Linked DNA regions of Homo sapiens: region 2 is linked to region 1. The links come from fine-mapping of genetic effects on gene expression. Tissue or cell type: whole blood. Region 1 holds a variant in brackets; the other region holds the start of a gene. All regions are shown on one strand. Distances are from middle to middle.

The links. PIP is the estimated chance that this variant, and not a neighbour inherited with it, causes the effect.
Region 2: NKIRAS1 starts here. The variant in region 1 is fine-mapped to the expression of NKIRAS1 in whole blood (TOPMed, PIP above 0.99).

What each region holds. Positions count from the first base shown.
Region 1 is chr3:24,095,153-24,097,912 of GRCh38, forward strand. It overlaps the pseudogene NPM1P23. Among named protein-coding and RNA genes, the nearest start is that of LINC00691, 6.7 kb to the right of the region's middle. RefSeq lists an enhancer at 1-94. The variant G/GT (reference allele first, on the strand shown) is at 1,552.
Region 2 is chr3:23,915,767-23,918,388 of GRCh38, forward strand. It overlaps NKIRAS1 (NFKB inhibitor interacting Ras like 1), which reads right to left and starts at 1,224. Exons shown (of 5, transcript NM_020345.4): 1 at 1,018-1,224. RPL15 (ribosomal protein L15) reads left to right here and starts at 1,366. Exons shown (of 4, transcript NM_002948.5): 1 at 1,366-1,407; 2 at 2,084-2,265. The coding sequence starts at 2,094. RefSeq lists enhancers at 828-1,627, 879-2,078, 2,008-2,107.

The DNA of each region.
Region 1 (2,760 bases):
GATATAGTCTCGTGGTGCGCCGTTTTTTACGCCGGTCTGAAAAGCGCAATATTTGGGTGGGAGTGATCCGATTTTCCAGGTGCGTCCGTCACCCCTTTCTTTGACTCGGAAAGGGAACTCCCTGACCCCTTGCGCTTCCCAGGTGAGGCAATGCCTCGCCCTGCTTCGGCTCGCGCACGGTGCGTGCACCCACTGGCCTGCGCCCACTGTCTGGCACTCCCTAGTGAGATGAACCTGGTACCTCAGATGGAAATGCAGAAATCACCCGTCTTCTGCGTCGCTCATGCTGGGAGCTGTAGACCGGAGCTGTTCCTATTCGGCCATCTTGGCTCCTCCTCCCTCATCCCTACTTTAAAATGGTTGTTTCTATCCATTGCTGATATCTTATTTCTCTCCCTGCATTTTATTATTTTTGATAAATTTGCCAATTCTCCCTTTTCTGTTAATTTATCTCCCTGCATTTTATTATTTTTGATAAATTTGCCAATTCTCCTTTTTTTGTTAATTGGAACATGTCCTCAACTTTATTAATTTTTAAAAAGCCAACTATTAATTTGATTTACCAACTCAACTTTTTTTTTTTTTTTTTTGAGACAGAGTCTCTTGCTGTGTTGCCCAGGCTGGAGTGCAGTGAAGTGATCTCTGCTCACTGCAACCTCCAGCTCCCAGGTTCGAGCAATTCTCCTGCCTCAGCCTCCTGAGTAGCTGGGACTGCAGACACACACCACCACGCCTGGCTAATTTTTGTATTTTTGGTAGAGACAGGGTTTCACCATGTTGGGCAGGCTGGTCTTGAGCTCCTGGCCTCAAGTGATCTGCCCACCTCGGCCTCCCAAAGTGCTGGGATTATAGGCATGAGTCATTGTGCCCGGCCTCAACTCAACTTTATAAGCATTTTGTTCATTTATGTTGTTAGTTTTATTATTTTCATTTTACTATTTTCTTTTGGCTTTTCACTTTAGCCTCTTAGCAGATAAAGGCTTTGCTTTTATGGTGTTTTTTTCTTTCTTCCCTAATTTAGAAAAATGAGTGTTTTTCTAAGCACTGCTGTGGCAATACTCCATCAATTTTAATACAGAAATATCATTTCAAAATATTCTGTAGTATAGGGACTTTTTTTCTTTTTTCTTTTCTTTTTTGATTCATTCAAATATTTATTGAGCAGCCAAGGAGACCCAAAGGTGATTAAAACATGGTCAGAGAGGTGAGGCAAATGTGCAAGTAACAGAAAGCAAGGGGCTAGGTTCACAGAATCACAGCTGTCAAAAGAAAGTGCTTTAGGACATGAAGAGTGAGTTCGTTTCCAGCCTGGAAGGAGCATGGCTGGCAAATCAGAAAAGGGGATTCAGATTAAAACAGAAGACTTCAGTCTGGATGGCTGATGATACTCAGCATGGACTATATTTCTCTTTCCTCTGTCCCCATCTTTGGACTTAATTTTGCAGTATTGCCCAGGACTGTTCAATGTGCTTTTTCTGTACTTGCTTGCATTTTAGCTTTAATGTCTTCTATAGAACTAGGTCCTTTTTGGATTTTTAGGAGTTTTTTCCT[G/GT]TTTTTTTTGAAGTATTCATGACCTTTTGATCTTGGTCTTGATAGTTTTGAGTTTTTCCATTTTGGTTTGATTTTGGTGCATTTTTGGCTGGAGCATCTTATATAGATTTCTTCACTGGAGCTTTTTCTTCAATTTCTTCATCATCAAAATTATCATCATCATCATCTTCATCAGCAGCAAGTTTTACTTTTTTTTCTGTGGAAACTTGCTGCTACCTCCAGGGGAAGATTGCCTTCCAGATATATTAAATACCTAAGAGTTTCACATCCCCCTGCTCTTCATCTTCTGACTCTGCCTCTCCCTCCACAGCTGCTAAGTGCTGCCCACTAATATGCATTGGCCTTGATCCACACTTCAACTGTAATCCCACGGCTGATGTTATTTCAAAGCCCCCAAGGGAAACCGTTGACTGTACTGACATTTTCAAAGTTGCCAGTGTTACTTCAATAGGACTGCCTTCATAATTCATTGCCTCTGCTTCAACAATGTGCAATTCATCTTTTACACAGCCCCTAACCTGACCGTGCTTAAAGATAACTGGTGCTCATTTTCATCATTATCCACCCGAAACCGATCATCTTCATCGGCCTTTAGTTCACAACCAAAAGATAGTTCTGGAGCCACAGGGGGCTTGTGTCCATGTCCATTGAATCTTCCTTGGGGTGGTGACATACACTTCGGTGAGAGAGAAGGCAGACGGAGATAAACAACTACCGCTCCAGAGAACAGCTGTGCGGGACAGAATCACACCAGGCACAGAATTATTTTCTTGATGTAGGAAGTATTTAGGCACTTAAAATTTTTTTATGTGATGTAGAGATTTTATATTCTGCATGCATTGAAAAACTCTAGTTCACCGAGATATGATTTATATACAATAAAATTTACCTTTTCTAACCAAAGAGTTTAATGAGGTTTTACAAGTGTGTAAAATTGTGTGGCAACCGGCTGGGCGTGGTGGCTCACGTCTGTAATCCCAGCACTTTGGGAGGCCGAAGCGGGTGGATCACGAGGTTGGGAGATCAAGACCATCCTGGCCAACATGGTGAAACCCCGTCTCTACTAAAAATACAAAAATTAGCCAGGCGTGGTGGTGCGCCCCTGTAATCCCAGGTACTCAGGAGGCTGAGGCAGGAGAATCGCTTGAATCCGGAAGGCAGAGGTTATAGTGAGCTGAGATCATGCCACTGTACTCCAGCCTGGGCGAC
Region 2 (2,622 bases), 180 kb before region 1:
TCAGACCCCTACTCTTACTCCCAGACTCCTATCCTTGAAGTCCTTTCTTAAATGTTACCTTCTCTCAAAGACTTAACCTGGACACTCCATTCCAAATTGCAACCCTCAGCCGCTAACACTCCCTCATCACTTCCCTCCCCTTATCTTTTTTCCTTAGCATTTACCACCAAACCCAAAACACAGCTTACTTCTGCTTACTGCCCATTTCCAAGAAGGCCAAAAATTCTGCGTTGTTTCCTGCTGCATCCCCAGCAACTATGCCTGGCACATATTAGACACTTAATAAATATTTGTTGAATCAATCAATGAACCAGATAGAGACTCTTAAAAACGTAAAGCTGTGATTTAAAAAGAAAGAAAGAAAAATATGATGTGGGAAAAAAGATAATCAAAACCGCTACGATTAAGAGATAATGATTCTCTTAAGCCTTTGCCACATCTGAACGCATAATCTGGAAGGAAATTAAAGCCACATGACTTAAATTAAAGCCAAGTGAAAATATTCTGGAGAAACAAAGTAAGCCAGTAACCTATTTCTCAATTTAAAAAAAAACCCGCAACGCAAAATGCCAGCATTTTCTCGGCATTTCTTCTCTAAAACATTCACACCTGCCAAACAGGTCTTGGCAAATAAACATTCTGCTCTTCTGAAAAACTGTGGTTCTCATGTTAGCAAATTTGGGACGAAATCCGTATGCAGAAAAAGCGCCGGGCCGCCCGCAATCCACCCACTCCATGACCCTTTTTTAGGACAAAATCCCTGGGCGCTGGGGCCTGCTGGAGGAGCTTCACGCAGTCTGGAGCTGAAGGGACACAGCGAGCGCCCCGACCCGCGACGCCCCGACTCCGCGAAGGCCTCCCTGGGAGGCTGGGGAAGCGTCGGGGGATCTCTCAGCGCAGCTCTGGGGCCCAGATTTCTGCGCCCGTCGTGCGGTGGCCAGAGAGGGACAGCGCAGCGCGGAGACGCGGAGACGCAGAGACTCCGCAGGGGGAGAGCCCGCGGTGCGTGAAACAAACCTGTTCTCTCCTCAGACCTCAAAGACAGCGGCTCCACCGCGGTACGCGGCCACCGGCTTTGGAGCCTGGACCCCAACTTGCCTCCTCTCGCGGAGAGACAGTCGCCGACGCTCGCTTAGCCGCCGAGACCTCGCCGCCAACTCTCTCACCTCTCGAGACGCCCAGGCCGCTCAGGCTCGAATCTTGCGGAGCAGGGGGCGGGACAATAGCGGCCGCGGCGCCCCACTCGGCAGAACTCCGCCACCAGGCGCGATGCCGGAACTACATGTCCCATGACGCTCTGGGAGGCCGCAGCTTTCCACCGGAAAGAGGGTGGCTGAGGTGGGGGAGGAGCCCAAAAGGCATTGTGGGAGTACAGCTCTTTCCTTTCCGTCTGGCGGCAGCCATCAGGTAGGCTGCGTTGAGGATCTTTGCTCTTCCATCCGCCTTTGATCGTCTTCCTCTTCAGCCATCCAGGTCCGGGGACCCTGCGTCCTCGGAGATAGGTCTCCCTCCTGTGCGGCCAGAGTTTGGTCAGGATGCGGGACAGCAAAGGGGTGGAGAGGCGGCCCCCGGGGCGGGTTGAGCGAAGATGTGATGGCGGCGCGAATTCGAGCTGGGCCCGGATCCTGGAGGAGGCGTGGGGCTGACGAATGGGGCGCCCGGGACAAGGCAGCCTAAAGTGAGGCTGCTGGTTGGGTGGGGTAGATGCATTTTCCTCGAGAGTTAATCCTCGGTGGCCGCAGCAGTACCTTGTCCTGTGATGTCAGCGGCATCTCCTTTCAGGTCCTCCTTGGGGACGCCGCCTGCCGCAGCCACCCGCCCCCTTGGTGCTCAGTTCTGGTTCTGTTAATTCGCCCCACCAAAACGTGCCGAGCACCGCTCTGTGCTGGGGTTGCGGAAGTGACTGAACGCGGCTCCGTGGGCGCAGTGGTGGGGGTTGGGCTAGCTGTCCCCGGCAGTTGGTGCAGAGCCATTTTCATTCCCGGCGGTTTCCTTGTTTTTGTTGGGGAACTAAGATGGACGGATACAGTCGTCTTATTGTACTTAAAGCGGATGATATTTAATACACAGTTTGATTTCACAGGTAAGCCAAGATGGGTGCATACAAGTACATCCAGGAGCTATGGAGAAAGAAGCAGTCTGATGTCATGCGCTTTCTTCTGAGGGTCCGCTGCTGGCAGTACCGCCAGCTCTCTGCTCTCCACAGGGCTCCCCGCCCCACCCGGCCTGATAAAGCGCGCCGACTGGGCTACAAGGCCAAGCAAGGTACGTGATCGACTGCGTGGATGCTTGGATAAAATTATATTCGAGAAAAGTTGGAAACCAGCTGTTAGGAAGACACTGCTGCCTCAGTGTCTTTCTTCGCATAGGGCTTTGGCAGAAAAAAGCTAGCAACACTGGTCAGTTACTGTATGCACTGTTGTCTAAAGTGGCAAGTGTGTCAAAGGTTACAAATCTGAATGAGTTCAGACTAAAGCAAAATAAACAGTGTGCCTCCCTGTGTGAGTAGCCTAAGGTGCATTGAAAAAGACTGGGATGTGTTTTATTTTTTTCTATTAGATAGCATTAACTTACTGTTGAAGTATTTTTGGTGGAGTATTAGTGACAAGCCATTGAGTCTTA